7 linked regions of the Homo sapiens genome follow. The protein of the gene in region 3 purifies or fractionates together with the protein of the main gene of each other region. This does not show direct contact. Each region holds a gene or a part of one and is shown on either strand. Other genes may lie near its edges. The genes, in order: MKLN1, OSBPL8, SKI, MAEA, AGRN, RMND5A and ITGB4.

Region 1 (3,500 bases), on a different chromosome or scaffold from region 3:
AAAATTCTGCATATAATGTCTGGCACTCCATCAAAAAATTGCCTAATAATAATTATTACTATTATGTTATTATCCACATGTAATAATTTATATAATATACAATAGAATATATAATTAACATACATTAATATACAAATATATTAACTATTATTATTATTTGGCCTAACAAGATGCAAAATCAAAAGGAAAGAGATGATGGAAATAGGCCTATAGGTGATACAGATATTGAAGTTTTCAGACACAGACTTTAAAGCAATTTGATTAATATGCTCAAAAAATACATGACAAGAGATTTTCACATAATTAGAATCTATCTTAAAAAGAGAGGATGAAATAATTCTAAAACTAAAAAATACTATAACTAAAATTAAGAATAGATGGGGTTAAAAAGCAGATTGGACATAGTTAAATTCAGAATAAGTGAACTGAAATACAGTCAAGTAAAAACTATCCAGAACGGATAAGAGGAGGAAAAAAATCATAAAAATAACAGAAGAGAGCAGGAGACATATGGGGGATAAAAAGTATAATAAAGATTTAATTGGAGTCACAGAGCAAAGGAGACAAAAATGGGGCAGAAACAATATTTTTAAAAAGTCAAAATTTTTTCACAGCTGATCAGTCATACTACAAATTCAAGAGGTGCCAGAAACGCCAAACAGGGTACAAACAAAACCATTCTTAGGTGCATCACTGAAAGCTGTTTAAACTTAAAGAAAAAGAGAATGACAAAAAGAAAGGCAGCTGAACAAGAAAGTCATACTACCTTCCAAGAAGCAACAGTAAGTCTGACGGCTGATTTTGCAACAGAAACAATGGAAGCTAGAAGACAATGAACTGAGATCTTTAAAGTGCTTCAAGAAAATAACAGCTAATAATGTAGAACTGTACAGTCATTTAATATATTCTTCAAAGATGAAAATAAATAAATTTCAAACAAGCAAAAACTGAGAATTCAGTACCACCAAACTCCCTAAAAGGAGTTCTTCAGACAGAGGAAAATTAATCTCAGATGGAAGCATGTAAATACAAAAGGAAATAAAGAACAATGGAAAGGGTAAATATTAACTGTACAAAACAACAGTCTCTGGATTTAAATGTAGACGTGAAATGCATGACAATGACAACATAAAAGCAGGAGAGTGATAAATGCTATTAAAGTTTTCTAGGGTCCTAACAATGTCTGAGATGTTGTTTTTCAAAATCCTAATGAATATGCAACTCTAATGTACCACAAGAAAGCTTGTGGTGATCTAGCGTAACCACCAAAAGAACAGTAACAGAATATATAACTAACAAGCTAACAAAGGGAGGAATAAAATAATATTTTTAAAACACTTGATTAATCCAAAAGAAGGCAACAATGGAGAGAAAATAGAATATAGAACAAGTAGGACAAACAGAAAACAATAAAATGACAGACATAAACCCAAATTTATCAATAATTATATTTACCATTAATGAGCTAAATATATTTCAGATTTAATTAAAAACAGGCAAACAAAAATCTGTTTATTCTTAACAAGAAACAGACCCCAAATATAAAGCTACAGGAGCATTAAAAGCAAAAAGGAGAGAGAAAGTTTTACCATGCAAGCAAACAGCAGCCAAAATAAAGCAGGTGTAGCTAAGAAGACTTTGAGGCGAGAGACAAGTGTTACTAGAGATAAAAAGGGACATGTTATAATGATAAAGAGCCAATGTACTAGAAAGATAAGTTTGTATGTGCCTAGTAATATGACTTCAAAATACATAAAGCATACAGTTTAGTTCTTTATAGAACTAAAAGGAGAAATATACAAATCCACAATCACAGTAAGACACATTTGACACTTAACCTCAAGACACCTCTCTCTGTAATGAATAGAAAAAAAGGCAAAAAAAAAAAAATTCAGTAAGGATAGAGAAGATTTGTACAACACAATAACACAATTTACAAACTTGAACTTAACAAAGTACATAGAAGACAGTAGTTAACAGCAGAATGCATAGTCTTTTCAAGGGTACATAAACATTTATAAAAATGCTGAGCCATAAAATAAGTATCAATAAAGGTCTGAAACTATTCAGAGTGTGTTCTCTAATCATAGTGAAATTAAGAAATTAGTAACAGAAAGATAACTAGCAAATCCCCAAACGTTCAAAAAGTAAGCAATACATTTGTTAAAAAAAAAAAAAAACCTACAGGTCAAAGAATAAGCCAAAATAAAATCTGAAAAACATTTTTGCATAAATGATAATGAACATGTAACATACCACAATTTGTGGGATACAGCTAAAATGTGTTGAGAGGAAACCCTATAGTCTTAGGACTAAACATAGCCTAGTTTTCCAATTATTATTAACAACCAATTCAAAATATAAGTTATGTTAGGGTACTTCAATCTAGTTAGCTGCCATTCAACAACTTTTTTAGGGACAGATTTATATTAGACTACTTAAATTATTCCTAGATAATGACTATGATATTTCCTTTCTCTTTGTATACTTTTTTAAACATGGATTAATCTTAATCAGTAAAATTTCATCATAAGCAAAACCCATTAAACAAACAATATCTTTGTTTATCTACAGCATAAATATACATACACAGTATTCTACAGAATGTTACTTTGACTTCACAGATTTTTAGAAATATTCGTAACCAAGTCCTGAAGTTCTCATTAAACAACAACAAAAAAATTTTCTAACTGAAACATCTTCCCAATGTGCAAAGATGTTAAAAAATATTTTCTTCAAAAGTCCCCCATATTAATAGATTTTAATACTGCTGGACTTCTCAGAGCTTTATCTGACCACCCCTTAATAAGCAACAATCTACAGAACCAGCCATTCACAAAACAAGCCCTGGGAAATCCGGTAGCAGAGAAGATACCCGGATCAACTATCCTAAGATTGAACCTATAAAGACCTAGAAATTTTATAAATTTTCTATTGTCTCTTATCAGAGATTTCTGACAAATGGTATTATAAACAAACAGTAATTAGGGATCTCTAAATTCTCAACTGTACATTCTTTGAAACATTTTATACATATTAAAATGTCTATAAATAGCTGTATCTCTAAAATTAAAGTCTAGAAAATCTTTCATATTTCCAAAAACGATTTTTGAATGACTGAAATACAGCAAACTCATTGCCACAAGTGGCTGAAATGTATCTTATCTACACGTAAAACATCACAAAGTCTTTGTATCAGGCCAAAAATCATTTATTAAAAATCTATTTAAATATTTACCTAAAAGTTAACGCAAATAATAGAACCATTTACCCATGTGCCCAAAAAATTGTACATAAACCTCTCAACATTTGATCAAGATAAAAAGTATTTCTACACAAGAAACTGACGCTCAGAAAAGAATCATAACTTGCCAAAAGTCACAAATATCTAATTCTAGGAATCAGCTCTGTAGACTCAAATTCTCATCCTGAGTACATTTCTTCCATCTTGAGTGTTTTTATTTTTCTGAAGTTCTAAGAGTCCCAGACTGAAAAACACA
Region 2 (3,500 bases), on a different chromosome or scaffold from region 3:
TAATATGTAGGCATTTGGCAGCCAAAAAGCAAAAATTACCTTACTGGTGGTCATCTCAACAGGACAGATTTCAACTGTACAGATCTGTGTCCCTCAAATATCACTAAATAGGCCTGGCATGGCAGCTCACATCTATAATCCCAGCACTTTGGGAGACCAAGGTGGGAGAATCATTTGAGGCTAGGGGTTCAAGACCAAGCTGGGCAACATAGTGAGACTCTGTTTCTAAAAAAAAAAAAAAAAACTTAAAAATTAGCCAGGTGTGATGGTATTCGCCTGTAGTCCCAGCTACTTGGGAGGCAGAGACAGGAGGATCACTTGAGCCTGGGAGGTCGAGGCTGCAGTGAGCCATGGTAGTGAGTGCCACTGCACTCCAGCCTAGGTGACAGCTCAAGACCCTGTATCAGAAGAAAAAAAAAAAAGGCCAGAGGAGGTAGCTCACGCCTGTAATCTCAACACTTTGGGAGGACGAGGCAGGTGGATCACTTTACGTCAGGAGTTCGAGAACAGCCTGGCCAATATGGTGAAACCCCATCTCTACTAAAAATACAAAAAATTAGCTGGGCATGGTGGCATGCACCCGTAATCCCAGCTACTCAGGAGGCTCAGGCATGAGAATCACTTGAAACCGGGAGGCAGAGGTTGCAGTGAGCCAAGATCACACTACTGCACTCCAGCCTAGGTGACACAGTGAGACTCTATCTCAAAAAAAAAAAAAAAAAAACACTAAAAAAAAATGCATACCAATTCTGTGAATCAGCCTTATTCTTTAAAACTATTTTTTAATTATAACAACTTAGCTTTAAATACTGTTATCTATTATGTTCTTTAATTTCCAGTTACTCCGAAATTCTCTGAAATTCCCCAGTGAGAAAATGGCAACTGGATGAACAATAAAATAAATATTTGCTTTACTCTAAGTATTTTTAAGATTTAAAAATAGGATGTCAGTCAAATACAAGTAAAATGAGAGAAAAAAAATCAAGGCTATATTCCATCTTCTTATAAAGTAAAGTGCATTTTGTAAATGACACAACTAAAACAGACTCAGGAAGATCACAAGGTCAAGACGTATCAAGAGGAGCAACTGCAAATAAATTATACAAGGCAGTATATAATATGATGGTTAAAAGGATAGGCTCCAAAGTCAAAGGTCAGGTTAAACCTCAAGTTTAAATCCTTTTAGTAGGCTCTACCACCTACTACTTAACTTCTCTGTGCCTCAGGTTTAGTTCAAATCCTGGCTCCACCACTTATTTAATCTGTCAGTTGCTCAGGTTTAAAAAAAAGAAAATAGCCTGATTGCGGGGTGGTTGTCAGGATCAAATGTGATGACATGTCAAGTACTTCTAGAGTAGTACAGTACCTGGTATATAGCAGTTGACGCACATTAGCTATTAATATGACCTATAACAATTTCCCTCTGAATCTATCAAGTTTTCAAAAACTCTAAATCAAAAAGCTTCTCCTTTTTATTTGAAAAAAGTCAAGCTCTGAAACCATTTCCTCTTTTTTTCAGTCCTTTTTGAATATGGAAATTAGTAGGTAACTGGCTTATCATTTGATGACTCTTCTTAGTCTTTGTATAATAAAAAGGCTCAAGACTCTTCTTAGTCTTTTTATAATAAAATTCTCTTCCAAATATTATACAAAGGACAGACTGCTCCATGGATCAAAAACACTACAAAGAGTTCACAAAGTATAATGAAATTCTGAGATTCATAAATGAACAGCTACTGGCACAAAAAGCTTAGATAAGAAATAATGCAGATGTCTGTTTGTTTGCTCAAGAAATACTGAATTTTATAATAAAACACAGATGGTAGAGATCTTCATGGCTTATAGTCACATCACTAAAAACAGAAAATATTTTTGGTAAATTTTTTCTTAACAACCAGAAAACCCCTTATTTCATCACAACAATGAATAGATAAATGACATTACAGGCAAAGACAATTTCTTCAAAAACAAATTACGTAGAGAAAAAAAGCTTAAAGGCTCAGATTTTCAGCTACACATATCCCTTACTTTGAGCTTCAAAAATTTGAGGCTTCTAGCACTCCTTGTGGTCTGTAACATTAAGCAGTAATACAATTAGGCCTCATTTCTACCAGAAAACATTAAACTGACTGAAAGAAAATTATCTAGAATTTTGATTCTGATCAATTTAAACATAATGCCATGAGTCATCTAGATGAGTCAAGCAAATATTAGAGTTCATGATAAACGAATCAAAATATGTTTTAAAGATCTGCAGACAAACGTTTTAATAATTTTGTATTTGCTGAAGTCCTCCTATGTGTGACACATTGAGGTAGGCACATTCATATTGAGGTATGCACTTTCACATGCATTATATAACTTTGTTCTCCCAACGATCATGGATTATTATCCTGATTTTACAAATGAGAAAACTAAGACCAAGTGATTGGCCGATGGAAACGACGCTTGTATAAGATTCAGTCAGAACACCAATTCAAATTTTCTGACCCTTATCGTACTTCCAAAACTCAAGTACTGTCAATCTCTGCTGTTGCAAAGCAAGTTAATCTTTTTATTTAGGGAGAGGTGAAAATAGAGATGGGAGAATAAAAATTCTTCATAATGTTACAAAAAAAGACTTACTGTGCTTTATCTGACATAATTTATTCAGTCTGACTTAAATGCTTTGCTGCACGTTGTCTACCCCCTTAGACACTGCTTATCTTCAGACACACAGCCCACACCAAAACCTAACTCAAGAATCACCTCCTCCAAGAAAGTTTCCCAGATTAAATGACCTGTTCCCCTTCTCCCAAGCTAACATCCTTCCTTTATCATTTCGCTGCTTGCATTTAGTTTGGACTACATTATCAGATACTCCTTTTGTTCTCCAGTCATATATCTGGAAGTAGACTTTTTTCATTCATTAACTATTGAACATTTGGAGATTCAATGGTGAGCAAAACAGACAAGGTCCTTGCTATCATGGAGAATTTACATTATCTGGATCTTCGACAAAGGTAAAAATAACAGGGTATAAGAATATGATGCTCTAGGACTAGGATTTCTTCCCTATAAGGTCTCCGAAAATAGCTCTCTCCCTTGCAAGCTTGATAACACTTTTCAGGAAGAAAAATTCCTTCTATCACGCCTTCCACATGAGAATTTTATGACTTTGTGAGGATATGTGAGGGATGGGGACCAAGGTGGGAAGAAAGATCTAAAATCTCTCAGGGGTTTCCCACATACTGCCATGAAATATGCACACAACATGAGTCTAGACATCTCTTCCTGTGTCTCATCACAAGGAAGCTATACTTTGGCCACAACTGCTCCAGTCAAGCACTTCTACTAATCTCCTTGTACCCAGCCACCTTCACTAAAAATTGTATATTTCTCAGAGGCTTTTTGTTTTTTTGGTGTTTTTTGAGACTGAGTCTTGCTCTATCGCCCAGGCTGGAGTGCAATGGCATGATCTTGGCTCGTTGCAATCTCTGTCTCCTGGGTTCATGCGATTC
Region 3 (3,500 bases):
CGCCACCCAGATGCGAGGGCTCAGCAGTCTCTGGTCTTTGCTCGTCACTGCCCCGAGGTCGTCTGTACCTGGGCAAGTAACCTCCACCTTCTGTGAGCGCGTGCAGCTGCCGCGGGTGTTAGAACGGATTCAAGCAAAGAACTCCTGTAAGATCTTCTTATGTAAATAAATACCGTAACTGTAGGATAGGTAGCCGCCTCTTGTCTACTGGGAAATCATTTTTCAAGCTTGGGCATAAGAAACCTTATACAATTTGCATAAACAGGTGAGAGTAAACGAGATTATTTGGAATAAATGCAAGGAACTTATTCTGAGAGTGGCAGATTCAGTCGCTACTGAAGACAGATATCTTGGGGGTAAAAAGACACGAGTCAGGATTTGCTGTACAAGATGCTGGAAGGCACAGAACGACCCCCGAAGTTCAGTTTTTGCATTTTCGTTTTCTTGTGATTCCCTTGTTCAACCAAGCACCAGAGGGGGTTTCTAAGCACTCGAGCACTTCGGATTTGACTGCTCTATAAATCGGTAAAAACCTCAGTTCACTGGGGAATAGAAAGAGAAGGGAAGGTTGTGGACAAAGTGCAGTTCTAAATATACGTTTAAATGAACGAACAAAAAAAAAGAAAGAAAAATTGAAATAATGCTCTTTTGTTCCAATGCTGCAGCCTCAGTCCCAAAATGAAGGGAGCGACGTTTGCCGAACTGAAAAGGGTCGCCCGGTCAGGCGGCACGTGTGCCCGGAGGGGCTGAGGGCGTGACCGCCAGCCACGGTCACCACCCGACGCAGGTCAGTGCCTCGTGGTGGAGGAGCGTGGGCAGAATCACGGGGTGCAGAGGAGCCGAAGACCGTCCCCTCAGCTCCGGGGCAGCTCCTGTGCGGCTCTGCACTTCCTGGTACCCGTGGGGACAGCGCTGGCATCGACGGCGGCGTGGCGGGCGGGGTAGGCGGCAGTAAGGCGGGCAGTGTTCGAGCTCATCTCGCACGCGGCACTGTCCCTGCTCTCCCTGGCAGCAGCAGGAAGACCTGGGTCCTTGTCGCTGAAAAAATAGACTCTGAAGAAAAACCCCTGCTGTCCTCACGCAGCCGCGGGCAGATGAGCTGTGATGGCTTCCCCGGGTGGGGAGGGTGGGGCGGCCGCCACCCCCACTCCGTTGCGGGTCTTCAGATGGCGTCATGTGTTGGGGCTTTTAGAAGTTAGTCATTTAAAAATGTGTTGATTTTCTGAATTTCAAGTCTCCTTACTGGTTTTAAATAGCTTATAACAAAAGTGTAAATGTTAGAATGTTCCAGCAAGCAGAGGACCAGCAGGCCGCCGAGCTGGCCCCGTCTCCAGCTGTAGTTGGGGGACGCGGCTTACTCACTTGAACTTGGCCAGTAGAAAATTTTGCAGTGGGTTCCAAAACTACATGGTTACAAACACTCGCTTGGTAATAGGCACGGTAAGACGTTGTGCTGTGTGGGCTGCAGGGGCGGAGCCGGGCGGAGCTGCACCGCCCAGCCGCGCCCCCCTGCACCCGCGTTGTCGGCGGCGCTGCGGCGGCAGGCACGGAATCTACGGCTCCAGCTCCGCAGCGCCCTCGCTGCCCGCAGCCTCGGGGCGGGCCCGCGGCCACAGCTGTTCCTGCAGCTCCTTCACCACCTTCTCCAGGTGCTCCCGGGCCTCGCGCTCCCGCAGCAGGTCGGCCCGCAGCTGCTCCCGGTCCGCCTCCGCGTGCTGCAGCTTCACCTGCAGGTCTTCGATCTGAAAGGGAGCCGAGTGGTCAGCGGCGCCTGCTCGCTGCCCTGCCCCGGCCCGACGCTGCTTCCCCCACCCGAGGCTCCTGCGCCGCTCCCTGTCCCTCCCCAGTGCCGCGTGCCGGCCCCTCCTCCACCTGCTAGGACACAGGCTCACGAGACGCAGGGCCCAGCAACCACCCACCCTGTGCCCGTCGGGGGGGCACGCACGGAACGTGGTCCCGGGCCTGGCTTCTGCTCCAAGGCCTTTCCGGCTGGGCAGGACTGGCCACCGGGGCCCACGGCGGCTCCACGCCCACCGTGCTGCGTGCCTCAGTCTCCCCACCCGCATACCTGGGCCGAGTACTTGGCGCGCAGGCGGCCCGCCTCGCAGCCCTTGTCGCACACCCGGGCCTGCCGCGCCTGCTCCAGCTCCCGCTTCAGGCGCAGCCGTGACTCGTTGGCCTCTTTCATCTTCTTCTCGTTCTCGGCGCGGAGACGCTCGATCTCCTTCCGCAGGTTACGCTTGGCCTCCGTGGCCTCCCGCAGCTTCTCCTTCTTGGCCACGCGTAGGAACTCCAGCTCCTGGGGGCCGGAGGCGGCTCGGGGTCACTGCCCAGCCGGTCCCAGCACACCCCTCACCATGACCAGCAGTCCTCAGCCCACCCCGTGGGGTCATCTATCTGACAATGTGCCCTGGAGCCCCGCCCCCAGCGCGCCATCAGCCCAACCCGTGTGGTGCCCCGACCCCACAAAGGCTTTTCAGACCCCCATCCGGAGTTTCCGCCAGGCCTGTGGCAGCTGTGCTAAACCTGGGGGCCTGAGTCAGTCACTTGAGGCTGCGGCGGGGCCTCCCCCGGTATCTAGGGCCACGTTCCCCTTGGGGGCAGCAAGCCAAGTAGGCCCTGGCTCCCATCAATGTGAGGAGGGCAGCCTCAGACATCGCACCATCTGAGGGCCCCGGGTCTCCCCACGCAGCCAGATGGACACGTCCATCCGCCCGGCGCCTCCGCAAGCCCCCCCACTCTCCCCATTAAAATATCCGTGTGACTCACACCCCACGCTGCAAACACACCACATGAATATGTATGTGGGAAATCACACCTCCAACCAGAATCAAGGACAACAGTGGCGGGGGACGTGCTGGGGCGAGGGACTGGCACGCGCAGGAGGGCACGTCGGCAACCCTGCAGCTCTGAGGGCCGACGGGGTTGTGTTGTGCTAAAGCCCACGCCGCGGAAGCTGCCAGACGCCGCCGAGGTGTGAATTTAGCGAGGCCGGGGCCCGGTGAACAACGGGCCGCCTGCACACCTCTCTCCCCAGGCAGCTCTGCCTGTGAACCGCACTTCCCTCAGTCATGTCAGAAAGAAACCTAAACAACGTAAAAGGAGGCGCGAGACCGGAGCTGCAGCGTGAGAACCGTGAGGCAGAGCCCAGAGAAGCAGCGTGTGCAGGTGGGTGTGTGTGTGTCTGTGCGGGCCGAGCCCTCTCCTTCCTACTCGGGAGGCCTGGCGGGAGCCGCCTTCTGGAACACCAGGCATTAGTAAGCACGCCCCTCACGCCTGTGTTTTGCAGACGCCAGGTCTTGCTGGCGGAGCGCGTGAACACCCACTCCTGGAGCACACAGAGCAAGGAACTGTCTCCATGCAGCTGCTCCCAACTCTTTCTGCCACTAAAAATAGCCCGGCCTCCCTTATACCAGAGAAACATGGCTACTTCCTCAGTGGGGCCACCACGCAGGGTGTGTGATCCTGATGGGGAAAGCTGTGGTCAAGCCAAATGTAGT
Region 4 (3,500 bases), on a different chromosome or scaffold from region 3:
ACCGTTATGTGAGACAGCGGTCACGACTCACGAGGGAAAAGGGCAGAAGTGGGAGATGCTGGGGCTGCAGTTTCAACAGTGGAGTCAGAGAAGCTTCACAAGCTGACAGCTCAGCGAAGATTGAAGGAGGTGAGGACATGGGACCACGGACGTTGGCAAAGATTGAAGGTGAGGACATGGGACCATGGACATCTGTGGAAGGAGCGCTCCAGACAGAGGAAGGTGGCAGTAAAACCCTGGGCTCGGCATGCTGGCCTGGCTGAATGGCGGCAGAAAGGCCACTGGGCCCAGCACCCTACAGGGCAAAGGGCCTGGGAGCCACTGTAACGACCCTGGCCTTCATCCCCAGGTCAGGAAACTCCTAGAACAAAAAGACGACAGGATCTGGCGCTGGGGCAGCCGGGGTGGGCATGAGCAGAGCAGGAGCAGCCAGAAGGCTATTCAATATTCCAGAGAGAGATGCGACTTGAGCCGCAGGGGCAGAGGTGGGAAGAGCAGCAGCAGCTGGGCCTGGGCATGTCCTGACGCCAGGGTGGAGGGGCAGACGGGCTGGGCATGAGCTGTGACAACAGAGGCATCAAGGCCAACCTGAAGGTTCTGGCCTGACCAAGGGAGATGGAGGGGCTGCCCTTCCCGAAGAGAAGGGAGACTGGTAGAATTGGTTTGGGCAGCAGGTGTTAAGATGATAAGCTCAGATCTAAATATGCCAAGGAGCTGGGCATGGTGGCTCACACCTGTTATTCCAACACTTTTGGACGCCCAGGAGGGAGGAATGCTTGAGCCCAAGAGATGGAGACCAGCCTAGACAACGGAGCTAGAACCTATCTCTACAAATAAAAAAATTAGCCAGACACGGAAGCAGGCGCCCGTGGTCCCAGTTACCCGGGAGGCTGAGGCAGGAAGATCACCTGAGCCCAGGAGGTCAAGGCTGAAGTGAGCTGTGATCATGCCACTGCACTCCCGCCTGGGTGCCAGAGTGAGATCCCATCTCTAAAAATAATAATAATTTTAATAATAATAATTTTAATGCCAAAGTGCCTTGCCAAGTGGGTATGTTTTACAGGCTACTGGATACAGGGCTCTGGGGTTGGGAAGATACCTGCCTGGGAGTCATCAGTATACACAGAGGGTCCTATCAGTCCACTAGACCCTGTGAGAGCACCAAGGCAGCGGTGCTCACAGCAACACCCAGGGCCAAGGACTGAGCCCGGGGGGAAACGCGAGGATGGCGCTCTAGGAGCCCGAGGGGGTGAGCTGTGTTCCAGCCCTGTGAGAGGTCGAGATGGGCAGCAAGAATCCATCATGGGTCTCAGCAGTGTCTTGGGGTTACCTGGTGCCCTGACTATAGCACTGTGATGGGGGTAAAACCAGATGAGAAGCAATTCCAGAGACCCCAAGGCAGGGCTGGCTCAGACAGAGGGGACCTGTGGGTCCCGCACACAGTTAACCAGAAGACGGCGCGTGTGCCTCTTCGTGGATAACCAGAAGACGGCGCGTGTGCCTCTTCGTGGATAACCAGAAGACGGCGCGTGTGCCTCTTCGTGGATAACCAGAAGACGGCACATGCCTCTTCAGGTCACAGGGATGGGGCAGGGGGTCTGGTGCATGAACAAAGGCTGGCCTTGGGCGGGGCACAAATGACATATCTCCAGTAAAAGAAAGGAAACAGTGAGCACAAGCAGGCAGGCGACAGACAGGGCCAAGCCGCGGGCAGAGCACAAGGACGGGGCAGGCATGGGGGGCTCATGGAGAAGGAGGGGCATATGGAACAGTACCTGGGGTACAGGGTGCTAAAATGCCTCAAGAAGCATGGCTATGCTGCCAGGCAGTACTCGACACCCACTCCAGGCAGCAACCGGGTTCCTCAGCAGATAGGTGCGGCTTCTGTGGCCAGTGCAGGGGCCTTGCACAGCGGGGTTTCCATGCTGGAATGTTCTAGAACAATGGGAAGCAGAGAAGGGCAGGGGATGGGGCTACATCGCGAGGGGTGGAGGCAAGGGAGAAAGGAAACGCAAGAGGCTGACCACAGCCAGATGAGAGCACAGGCCATGAGACCAAGACATACTCTAGAATGCGGCAAGTGGACAAAAGTGAGATGCGAAGTTTAGGAATTTCCCAGACAGACGGGGGAGAAATTGGTTCGGCCAACAGCCATTGACTGACTCCTGTGCCAGGCACTCGTGGGTGTGACGTGAACGACGACAAAGGACGGCCCGTGCCCTCGCAGAGCAGACGCTCTAAAGGAGACGCCCAACCAAAGCACAGAGAGATGCAGGCGACCGCGTCAGACTGTGACGAGTGCTGCAAAGGAAACCAGGCAGGCAAGGGACAAAGGGCAAAAGGAACCACATCCTAATTTTATTTAGGGCAGCAATGAGCCCACACTCAAGCGCGTGCTCTCTCTCTATATGTATGTATACACACACACATACGCACGTACTTTTTCAGGCTCCTCCAAAGCTAGAAATGGCCAGCCCCGTGCTCTGGGGAATGAGCTGAAGTGTAAACGCTTGGGAGGATGTCCACTAAGGCCCCCACGCAGGGAGCTGGCCACGCAGGGCGGCACTGATTCCCCCTTACCCTCCTCCTGGCCGCGAAGGCCGCAGCCCCAGCAGCCATCGTGGACTCAAGGATAAACGTGAGAAACAGAAATCGAGAAAACCTCCGAGTTCTCGGCTGTCACTGAACAAGTGCCGGGGGACATCGCTGTCAACTGACTTGGGAAGGGTGGCTTAGTAAGGCAGGTCTGGGGCTCGTCTGGGGCCCCAAGGCCGAGATGCGGCATTTGGTTTTGCGCCTGGTATCGTATCTTTGAACTGCCTTCCAGACATGCGAAGAGAGCTCCGGGAGGTGACTACACGGGATGGCCTCAGGGAGAGAGGCCTGGGGAGGGCAGCAGTGTGGGGACAGGAGCTTGGAGACCGTCTGTGAAGCCACACAACCTCTGGAGGGCTGGCTGGTGACATAAAACAAAAGGCCTCCAAGACTAGAGAAGACAGCATAGGCAAGTGAGGACATGCAGCGAGGGGTGGGGAGAGCCCAGAGGATGGTGTCACGGGAGCCGAGTGATGGGAGCGTCTCGAGGCAGTGGGGTCCGCTGTGGACTGACCGCTTTCAGGAGCATCATCCTGTCCTCAAGAGGAACATCTGGGTGGAGTGTTGGGGGGCAAAAATCTGATTTAGGTAAAACAGGAAGAGAGACATGAAGGGGCAGAGACAGGGAGTAGTAGCTGGAGGAGGACGGGGGCAAGGAAGGGGTTTTCACGAGAGGAAGACTCAGAGCCACGTGCACACCAGGGAGCTGCACAGCCAATGGGAAAACCGACCAACAGAGAGAGAACCAAGTGCAGGAGCAGCCACAAGGCAAAGGGCACAGCACAGGTGAGGGGGGCACAGCGCAAGTGAGGGAGGCACAGGCACGGGTGAGGGGGGCACAGGCACGGGTGAGGAACGGCACAGGCATGGGTGAGGGGTACAGGTGAGGAATGGCATGGGTGACG
Region 5 (3,500 bases), 1.3 Mb from region 3:
CCCACGTCCACAAGCCTGAGAGACCTTGCCGTGCTCGCAGCCCGCGCATTCACCCGCCCCCGCGCCGCATCGGGGGTCCACCACGGACACGGACACGCGTGCGTGCGCTCACAGGACCGGCCCTGCCCCTCGCAGACCCCGCCCGCCGAGGATTCCCGCCAGCCCCGGGCCTCTCCAGGGATGACCTTTCTCCCCCACCCCGCACCTGCAGGCGCGGAGAGGGGCGTCTGCCGCAGGCGGCACCCGACTCTGTTTCTGCGACGGGCGAGCACCCACTTCCCACCCACCTCGTGGGCCTCCAGCGAAAAGCAGAGACGCCTCGAAACCAACTCGGGCACAAGCAGTCCAGGCCCCAGTTCTGCTCAGGAGCTCCTTCCACATCGGCACCGGAGCCCCTCACCGATTCACCCCATGGAGCCGGGGGAGCCCCTTCCCGCGCTGCTGCAGCGTCCAGCACAGCTGAGCCCTGCCGCCTCCCGCCCGGGTCGCACCCAGGTCCCGCGTCTGGCCCTCAGGGGCCTGAGAGCCCCACCGGGACGGGGTGTGAGGCCAGGTCACAGCTCTGGCCCACCTCTGGCGCCTCCCTGACCGCTCCCTGCGCCTAAGATGGGTGGGGAATCTTCTTGCCTCCCTCTCCCCAACTCTTCCCCAGCTTCCCTGGAGAAGTGCAAATTCCTGGCCTCCGCCTCTACTATCTCCTATTCTCCCTGGCCAGCCCCCCACCCGCGGCAGGCCTGTGCCCTTCTGCAGCCTCCCATCGCTCCCTGGGATCCCTGGGGCACCCACACGCCCCCTCCTCCCTGGGCATCCCCCGGCCCCCCACCTCACTCTTGCCTCCTCCATCGCCCTCACTCTCTGTCAAAGCGAACTTCCTTCTTGGAGAGGTGCAGGAACTGTTGCTCATTTTAGTTCTTACAGCTGCAGACCACAGCGCCTGACACACGTCCCATCACCAGACCTCAACGTGGCCAACAAAGCTGCCTCAGGCACGTTAAAACCCAGAGCCCCTGCGGCAGCCCATCCTGAGCACCCCCACCCCCAGCATGGCCCACCCAGGATCAGGGAAGGGTCCGTTAGCGGCTGCAGCTGTCTGGATTTAATAAATGTTTAATTGGGTCCAATTATCATTAATAAGTCATGTCAGAGGGGTGGCTACCACCCATCACTTCCCAGCAGGCTCGTGAAATGGGGCAGGAGGAACCCCCCCCATCTCCAAGGAGGGTGGGTGCACTGGGAGCTGGAGCCAGCTGTTGCTATAGCAACAGCCCACCCCAGGCTCTGGCGCTGTCTGTCTGGGTGTCCCTGCCCCCACCCCAGAAGGCTGAGTGAGGGCCATCCGCCTGCCATCCCTGCAACCTACCCATGCTCCCCCCACCAGATCCCTGTCTTCCTCCCCAAACCTTGGCTGTGCCCCCACCCCTCTTCTGCTACTCTCCCACCTCAGGTCTTACAGCCAGGCTGCTCAGCTCTGCATTACCCACTGTGAGAATGTGGGCAGGTTATCACCTGCCTGGGCCTCAGTATCCCCTTCGGTGAATAGGAGCAATAGGACCTACCTCCCAGGATTGTGGGGTTAAATGGGCCAGTATCTGCAAAGCTTAGAGGGTGCCCAGCACACAGCGCTATGTGGCCCGTCTGCTGCCACTGTAAGTATAGTCATGAGGGCTGTCATCACCACTGGCCTTCCCCCGTCCTGGCTCAAATCAAACTCAAACCACATGCACCCCTGGCCCTTTCACTTCCCTTCTGGTTCCCCTTCTCTCTCCCCTCAGCATCTCCCTCTCCCTTTGGCCCTGCCTTGTCCAAGGCCCTGGGACTCCCAGTCCAAATCCAACGGGCACCTGCTGATGCCCAGCCAGCTGTTCTCCTGGGCTTCGGCTGGACCTGTGGACCAATGGTTCCCCCCAGGTCCCAACCCCATGGCCAAGGACCCAGTCACCTCCCTGCACCAGGGCTCCTGAGCCTTTCTCCCCTTTTGGTCACCTTGGCTCAGCCAGACCTCTCCCAAGGCCCTGACACCATGGCCAAGGGCACTGTTCCTGGATGGCGGGCATGCTCCTCATCCACCAGGACCCGCAGCTCCCTCCATAGTCCAGCCCGAGGTCCTGCTACGTCCCAAGACAGAGCCTTGGGGAAGAAGGTGATGATGGCAGCTCACCAGGGTGAGCGGGGCTGGACTGCTTGCAGGGGCATGGAGAGCAAGCTCTGGGATGGGAGCCTAGAGGTACCTTAGGGACAGGCTCTGAGTGACCAGCTGCTGGACCAATGTGGCAGGGCAGTGGAGAGACCTTGGGTACCTGGCGGGACCTTGAAGCCAGGCTGAGCACTGGCTCCCCATCCCCATCTGGTGTGCAGGGCCAGGTCCTGGCCCCTTCCCCTCTGCCTCCAGGGCCTCAGAGAGTCCGCTCCTCTTGGAATGTGGCCCCAGCTGTGGAGTGGGGGTGGATCTCCCTCACAGCATTTGATGGTGTGACACTGCCGGCCAGCCCAGGGTTTAAAGGTCACAGTGCTGGTCCCTCCCTCCTATCCCCATCCAGGCTGGAAACACATCTGCCCCTCAAGAGTGAGCTCAGGAATCACGGCCTCCGGGAAGCCCCACCCCCCCATTCTCCGCTCACACTGCGGGCTTAGGTGAGGGGCCGCTCCCACCACTGTGCTGAGTCTCCACAGGCCTAGGGGATCATAGAGGCTCCACACGAGATCACCTGAAGACAGGTGCACGTGGTGATGGCACACACGCACGTACCCGCCAGGCACAGCGCATTGCAGCAGCCACGCCCCGAGATGTCTCCCCTGCCAGCTGGCAGGAGGAAGGTAGGCCACCTGACAAGGCCACACTGCTAGAAATGCCAGCACTGGGCTCAGACACATCTGTGCTCCGGTCACCTGCCCACATGGCCCCTCATAGATGCAGGTGACACACCTAGGACCCTGAGAGCCCTGTGTTCCCGATGGGTCATTTTTGGGGGTCCTGCCACGCCTGTCTTAGCTCCACCTCCTGCAGGAGCCCCTCCCCGGCCACTCGGCCTCCCCACCCACTCTCCCGCAGCGTGACGGGTCCTCCCACTGTGTGCAACGCTGGAGGCGGCAGTGCTTTTTATAGGAGCGGGTATATTTAACTCCCTTCCTGGTCCTGGGTAGGCTGGGGGATGGAGAGGATGCCCCAGCCCTGCTGTGAGCTCTGGCCCGTAACTATGACCACAGTTAGGTGGCATGTGGGTCACGATGGCCTTGGTGTGGAGCCCTCCGTGACTCTGTGGCAGGGTGGGCTGTGGCCAGGTGAAGGGGGCAGTGTGTAAAGAAAAGGAGACACTCCCCAGCCTTCTGGGTGTCAGGAAACGAGGCTGAGGATGCTAAGAGAGGGGACCTCCCACCTGAGCACCTCTTTAAATCCAGTTGGCTCCAGGCCTCTGGCTCACAGGTGGTGGAAACGCAGTTCTTGCCCTGGCCCTGCCCGGCCCCAGCCACCAGCATAGACCTGCATAGACCTGTCTCCTCCC
Region 6 (3,500 bases), on a different chromosome or scaffold from region 3:
TTTTTAGTAGAGATGGGATTTCACCGTGTTAGCCAGGATGGTCTCAATCTCCTGACCTCGTGATCCGCCTGCCTCGGCCTCCCACAGTGCTGGGATTACAGGCATAAGCCACCACACCTGGCCTTCACTTAGCACTGTTTAGAGAAACAAATGTTCATCAATAGGGAACTGGCTACCCAATCATATTTCTATACAGTAGAATATACTGCAGCTTTAACAAAAAAATAATGAGGGCTGTTTCTGCAGCACAGAAAAAGATCTCCAAAATACATCACTAAGTGAAAACAGCAAAGTACAGAACATTTTTTAGTATGCGACCATTTGTATAAAAAAGGGGAAAATCTATCACCTACCCCAAAAGTTAAGTTAAAGACATGCTTATAAATCTAATCACCAAATCCATAGACACATTAAAAATACTCAAATCAGATACCACCAACTTTGCCAAATGAATAGTTAAGAAATTTATTTAGTTCTAAATCTAGCTACATTTTTTTAATCCTCATCACTTCTTATCCTCCTACCAAGTTCCAAAACAAAATTTATTTGCTAACATTTTTTAAAAGTCAGACACTTACTTGCTACCATTAAACATTTTATTCAGGGCATCTCTTGATATAATATGACCACAGACCAATTTCATGGGTGGATTGTTATCTGTTGTTTGCTGACGAAGAATGGGGCAGGCAAATATAGAGTGATACCAGCACTTTTTACCAAGGTCCACTTCAATCTGTTAAAAAAAAAAAAAAAAGTAAAAAAGCTGAAGTCATATTTCACAAAACCATCCACATGGTAATATACACTGTGCAGCAAAGAACATTGATCAGATCTATTCACCTGAATGTAACTTTCTATAGCACTCTTCTAACTCAGATGGACAGTCTTAGTGATTCAAAGTGTTAAATTAGCCTTCAAGATTATTTTCAAGAAAGCTGACAAAGTGTAAAAACAAGTCTGACAAACAATGACCTGATCACCACCTCTAATGGCTTTACTGGCTTGACACACAGTCTTTAGGTGAATTCAGATTTCAGTCTGCTCTTAGTGCATGTCAGAGATGCTTACAACATAAATGGGAAACTGCCAGATGCCAGGCACCTGCCTCCACAAAACAAGTGAAGGCTCAAGTTCTTTTCACTTGTTCAAGTTAGCGGCAGTAGAGCAGGAGTGCTACTTGTGTCCTGACCACACTCAGGACCAGGACTGCACCTGTGCCTTTAATCAGAAAAGATCTTTGAGGAGAAGCTGGGGCAACCAACTGACAGGGTTACCTGCTGGAAGAACAAGGTAACTGCAAATAAACCCGTGTACAGGTGTGGTATAAAACGGGCAAAAAAACAAATGCGTATGTTAGCTTTTCAGGGTCTGTGACACAATCATGACAGGAACGACAATTCCAGGCCAGAGCCTCAGTGCCTGTCAGAGACCTGGTGGAAACATACATACAATGACCTTCGCCACTTCACATCATAACTGCACCATGGCAGCCACAATTTGAGTGCCTACCATGTATCCCGTCTTATTCTAAGCATGCTTATGTTATCTCTAGCCTTCAGCAGCCCCATAAAGAGAAAGCTGGTGCTTGTCTTAGAGATGAATACACTACTGCTTAGAGAAGTTCTAGAGTTGGCAAGTGATCGTGCTGATGTTTAAAACCATGGTCCTTTCCATGAGAGCAGTAGAAATACAGTACTAGAGACCCACTGATGACTGCAGGTGTTACGACCTTTAAGAGCTCTATACTTATTCTATTGGCAAATGTAACCAGCACAAACTCGTGATCTTATCGACAGCAATAGTTAAGACAAAAGTAAAACCAATTAAATTTGCGTTTATATTAGAAAAACAATCACAGGAGTGGTCTGTGAACTGCACTGCAGAACACACTGCCTGCTACTGTATGTACAGCCCTCCCCACTTCTGATGTTTCCCTTCACCAGCTTTCAAAGGCACTTCAAGTCAAAATTATAATACTCCTCCTCCAGGGTCCCCAAAATGTACTAGGCTCTTCATTTGTATTGTTTAATCTTTTATATATCCATAAAAGAACTCCTGTCAAATGGCTACAATGTTTCCTGGTTAAAAGGTAAGATGAACATTTAAAGATGCCATATTCTTCTAATGGCAGTAAAAGTAAATAGCCAATAGAAAATGGAACTCACAGGTAATTCATCTTTCTGGTTCCAAACTCCAGTACACTGCCTCTGTTCAATCACGGCTTTGATGTTAATTAAAGCTGGCAGCGCCACACAACCTGCTGAGAAACTGGGAGAGCAGAAGAGGAAACGTCAGTGCCAGGCCAGGGGTCAGGCCGCTTGGTCCAAGGAGACATCAATTTCTCCAGACTCTATGTGCTGCAGACCCTGGCCACTGGACAGGGTGAGAGCTTTCTGTTCTGCTAAAAGTAAATCCAGCCATTTCCACTAGAAGAGAAATAACTTGTTTTCCCTCCCCTTCTTCCCCAGGCCCACTGGTATATTTCCTGAAGTTACTGAAAACCAATCCCAGTTAAAAAACAAAACAAAAAATAAAACTCTAAATTTTCTAAATAAACCTCACCAATATGGGGGTAAATGCAGTTAAAGAACGCAAACGTTAAAAAAAAAAAACTCATCTGCTAGGGTAATTTAACTTTAGCTTACTTCCTCAGAAAATAGAAAAATAAAGTTTTAAAACATGCATTTTAAAAAAGAAAGCAGCTTTGGAGAACCAATTAATTCAAATGAAGAGCAGGAATTAAGAACTACTACACTCTTCCAAATACAGTAGTTTTAGCATCTGAGTTTGAAGGAAAAAGAGATGTTCTTGCACAAAATTCTTCACTCAGCAATATACAAGACATAACTTCCTTTCCTATTCCCTTCCTTACAGACCATATACCACCAGACTTATTTTTCTTACAAAATGTGCTCCAAGGTATACGCTAATTAGAACAATGATACTCAAAATGTGGTCTGCAGATGGTGCTGATTTACACACCATTTTCAATCCACAGGAAAGAAGTACAGAATTGAGAATAAGGTTTTTAGAGAATTTAATAACAGCAGATGGTGGTGGCTCACTCCTGTAATTGCAGCACTTTGGGAGGCCAAGGTGGGAGGATTACCTAAGTTTGAGAGTTTGAGACCAGCCTGGGAAACACAGTGAGACCCCCGTCTCTACAAAAGATATAAAAATTAGCCATTAGCCAGGTATGGTAGCATGTGCCTAGAGTCCCAGCTACTGAGCAGGCTGAGGTGGGAGGATGCCAGGAGGTTGAGGCTGCAGTGAGCCACGATCGTGCCACTGCACTCCAACCTGGGCAACAGAATGAGACCCTGTTTCAAAAAGTAAAATATAAAGAATTTCATAATAATCTTACATTAGTGCCAAAAAAGGTTTTATATTGCACAAAACAACTGGATTTAATGGGCTCAGCTTATCAGTCAAATGACATGCTTGCTCCTGAAACATTTTTTTTGCATAGTTCCTCTTATCCCCAGATCACCCCTGTCCAG
Region 7 (2,930 bases), on a different chromosome or scaffold from region 3:
GCAGAGTTAGGCATCAGCACTGATGGTAGGGCAGGTGGTTAGCGCCTGTGGGCAGGCGGGGGTCCTGTGGATGGAATGGAGGGGAAGCAGTGGGCACAGCTGGCGGCTGCTATGGTGGCTGGATGACAGATGGAGCAGGACAGCTGTGGAGACAGGATGGCCACCCCTGTACTACCTGGGCCCCAGGAGGGCGCTGCTGGCCTCCCAGCCAGGATTATAGAGTCTCGTGGGCCCCTGGAAGGGGGGAACCCTTTCATCTGAGCCCGACTCCGGGACCCCAGGGCCCAGGACAGCGGAAGCCTGCTCCTCCCGTGTTCCCAGATGGGAGGGAGGCCTAGGGCAGGACAAAACAAGAGTGAGAGGAGCAGGGAGTGTGCATGCATGTGTGTACGTGTGCGCATGCATGTCTGTGTACATGTGTGCATGCGTGTGCACGTGTGTGCGTGCATGTGTGCATGCGTGTGTGTATGTTGGAGAATGGGCGGTGGGGACAGCAGACAGAAGCCCGAGGCTCCAGGAGCTGGAAGAGAGGAAGGGTTAGTGGGAGAGGCAGGGTTGGCTGAGGTCACTCACCGTGGGAGGAGACGGAGGTGAGGGTGGAGTAGTCCCTGGGCAGTGTGGTCGAGTGTGAGTGTTCTGAGCGGGTCAGTGAGTTGTAGTCCCGTGTGAGGGTGGAGGATGTGCTTAGCACGCGGTGGGGCACGTGTGGGCTCAGGTGGGTGCCATAGGCAGCAGCACTGGTCGTGGTCATCCTGTGCAGGGAGTTGGTGCTGCCCGGGAAGGCAAAGTCCATCCGGCCATTCACCAGGTGCTCTGCAGGGGGAGAGCAGGGTCCCTTGGTCAGGCCTGCCCCAGACCCGGGCCCCGTGGGGCAGGCTGGGCCCTGCACATTCCTGGTCACCCACCCTCTGGGTGGCTTTTGCTTAAATACAACCAGTTTCCCTCAAACCACTAGGGACAGAGGCCCTCTGTCCCTGCAGGAGCCCAAGGGCCACCCAGGCTTCCACAGCCCATATCCTCTGGCCGGCCACTCTATCGGTGTGAGCACTGCTGACCCTGGCAGTGGCGGGGGTTTGCTGCGTCTGCAGTCAGCTCTGCCCTGGGGAGATCCCCAAGCCTTCCCTCCTGTCCTTTGAGGCCCCTGAGGGGTCTACTTGGGTGCCAGGGTCCGCTTCCCGGGCAGACTTCTGAATTTGCACCCCCTGGCCAGGCAGGCACCATAAGGGCCCAAGCGCCTGCCTCACGCGTCCCCTGGCACTGGGCCCTGCCTCTGAGCAGCTGTGCTCCCAGCCGCCAAGGCCCGGGCCTGGCTGAAACTGGGGCCCCCGAGGCAGCGCAGACGCCCACCCCAGGCCCTCAGGCGCGAGTGAGGCTGGGTGGGCGCGGATCGGGGGGCGGCGGGTGAGCCTGTCACCTCCGGGGGGCCCGGGTGTCGCACTGCGGGGCAGGCTGCCGCCCTTCCCGCCCGCGCCGCCGTCGTCCGGGGGCCCGTGGGGCGCCTCGGCGTCGGAGGAGCGCCCGCTGCTGGCCGACAGGCGCGGGATGAGCTCCGGGGGCAGCCGCCACGTGACGCGCCGCAGGTCCAGCTCCTCCCCCAGCAGGGGCTCGAACTTCCAGCCGCAGCCTTGGGAACAACGAAGGGCCGCGTTGGCACCGCCGGGGGGCGCCGGGCCGAGCAGGGCCAGGCGGGGGAAGGCCGTAGGCTCTGCGAGGGGAGCCCGTCTCCAGCTCCCGGGATCCCGGGGTGTGTGTTGGGGGCGGGGGTAGATGCGCACGGCCGGAGCGGGAAGGCCGCGGCAGGTGAAACCCTTGCGCGGCTGAAGCCTTTCCAGATGAGCGAGTGCAGCCTCGGCACAGCTGGGGAGGAGAGACCCCCGGACCCGCCAGAAACCTGGGGGAAGTCTGGGCTCTGTCACCAGCTGTGAGGTCTCCCTTGCTTTACTTAACCTCTCCGAGACTCAGTTTCCCGTTTGTACAATGGAGAGAGGAATCTTGCCCCTGCCCGCCTCCCAGGGACCGTTCCGCAAGCCACCGAGCGCTTCGCAGGTAGTGTTAGAAGCAGCTGAGCTGGGGTTCCAGAGTCACACCAGCTGCGCTCCACCTGAACCCCTCAAAATGGCTCCTTAAGCCCAAGCTGAGCCCCGTGGGGGCCAGTATGTGTTCACCGGGGGCAGCTTGAGGCATCGGCAGGGACAGAAGAAAATACAAAAGATATACGTGCCCCAGAGGTTTTTCCACTCATGGTACTGTGTGATTGGTATCCCATTATACAGAGCAGAAAAGTGAGGCATGGAAAGGATGAGTGATTCATCTGATGTCCCACAGGTGGAGCCACAGCTGACACTGAGCACTCAGGAGGCCCAGCTAAGGGCTCCGCAGCACTTTGTGCTGGGAATCAAGGAGGAAGGACAGAGCTGTTGGGGGTGTTCTTGTCTCCTTGGCTCCCCTACCCCTGCCAGGTGGCCGCCTGGTGGCTGCCCAGGGCTCCTGGGCCAGGCCTGCCCCTGGGGGGTGGCCTGAGTGTCCTGTGTGCATGGCACAGCTGGTGAACCTTCAACTTGTGAAGCTGTGTTTCTTCGTGGTCCCGTGGGCATGAACTCATGTGCGCTTGCACAAGGCTGTGTGTGTCTGTCCCCCAGGCACTGGTTCCTGTGCCCCATGCACAGATGTGCACTCCATTGCATTTGTCCAAGGCTGCCTTAACCTCCATGTCCTCTAGTTGCTGGCCCCTTTGCCCTCTCTGGACCCAGTGGACTCACTCTGTACCCAAGACCCCCACTGTCCTCTTGTGGGTCCCAGGTCTCCACTCACCAGTGTCATCGGAGACGCTGGGCCTCTGGCTGCCCGATGGAGAGCGTAGAACGTCATCGCTGTACATAAGGAAGCTGTCGTAGTCCTCCCCGCTCTGGGCGTCCACGATAGGGATGTCA

The links.
Region 1: the proteins of SKI (region 3) and MKLN1 purify together in Homo sapiens (affinity purification with mass spectrometry; 2 studies listed by BioGRID and IntAct, with this or other methods). This does not show direct contact.
Region 2: the proteins of SKI (region 3) and OSBPL8 purify together in Homo sapiens (affinity purification with mass spectrometry, with the first as the bait; one large-scale study listed by BioGRID). This does not show direct contact.
Region 4: the proteins of SKI (region 3) and MAEA purify together in Homo sapiens (affinity purification with mass spectrometry; 2 studies listed by BioGRID and IntAct, with this or other methods). This does not show direct contact.
Region 5: the proteins of SKI (region 3) and AGRN purify together in Homo sapiens (affinity purification with mass spectrometry, with the first as the bait; one large-scale study listed by BioGRID). This does not show direct contact.
Region 6: the proteins of SKI (region 3) and RMND5A purify together in Homo sapiens (affinity purification with mass spectrometry; 4 studies listed by BioGRID and IntAct, with this or other methods). This does not show direct contact.
Region 7: the proteins of SKI (region 3) and ITGB4 purify together in Homo sapiens (affinity purification with mass spectrometry, with the first as the bait; one large-scale study listed by BioGRID). This does not show direct contact.

Annotation. Positions count from the first base shown.
Region 1 is NC_000007.14:131,334,376-131,337,875, reverse strand, and holds part of MKLN1 (muskelin), read right to left. Parts: intron 1-3,500. UniProt on the Homo sapiens protein: Component of the CTLH E3 ubiquitin-protein ligase complex that selectively accepts ubiquitin from UBE2H and mediates ubiquitination and subsequent proteasomal degradation of the transcription factor HBP1.
Region 2 is NC_000012.12:76,553,272-76,556,771, forward strand, and holds part of OSBPL8 (oxysterol-binding protein-related protein 8), read right to left. Parts: intron 1-3,500. UniProt on the Homo sapiens protein: Lipid transporter involved in lipid countertransport between the endoplasmic reticulum and the plasma membrane: specifically exchanges phosphatidylserine with phosphatidylinositol 4-phosphate (PI4P), delivering phosphatidylserine to the plasma membrane in exchange for PI4P, which is degraded by the SAC1/SACM1L phosphatase in the endoplasmic reticulum.
Region 3 is NC_000001.11:2,304,819-2,308,318, reverse strand, and holds part of SKI (ski oncogene), read right to left. Parts: intron 2,300-3,500; coding exon 2,069-2,299; intron 1,743-2,068; coding exon 1,554-1,742; 3' UTR 1-1,553. UniProt on the Homo sapiens protein: May play a role in terminal differentiation of skeletal muscle cells but not in the determination of cells to the myogenic lineage. Functions as a repressor of TGF-beta signaling.
Region 4 is NC_000004.12:1,296,391-1,299,890, reverse strand, and holds part of MAEA (E3 ubiquitin-protein transferase MAEA), read right to left. Parts: intron 1,918-3,500; exon of another isoform or gene 1,776-1,917; intron 1-1,775.
Region 5 is NC_000001.11:1,037,120-1,040,619, reverse strand, and holds part of AGRN (agrin isoform 2 precursor), read right to left. Parts: intron 1-3,500. UniProt on the Homo sapiens protein: Isoform 1, isoform 4 and isoform 5: neuron-specific (z+) isoforms that contain C-terminal insertions of 8-19 AA are potent activators of AChR clustering.
Region 6 is NC_000002.12:86,768,791-86,772,290, reverse strand, and holds part of RMND5A (E3 ubiquitin-protein transferase RMND5A), read right to left. Parts: intron 2,269-3,500; coding exon 2,166-2,268; intron 734-2,165; coding exon 579-733; intron 1-578.
Region 7 is NC_000017.11:75,752,459-75,755,388, reverse strand, and holds part of ITGB4 (integrin beta-4 isoform 1 precursor), read right to left. Parts: coding exon 2,812-2,930; intron 1,625-2,811; coding exon 1,415-1,624; intron 814-1,414; coding exon 574-813; intron 335-573; coding exon of another isoform or gene 176-334; intron 1-175. UniProt on the Homo sapiens protein: Integrin alpha-6/beta-4 is a receptor for laminin. Plays a critical structural role in the hemidesmosome of epithelial cells. Is required for the regulation of keratinocyte polarity and motility.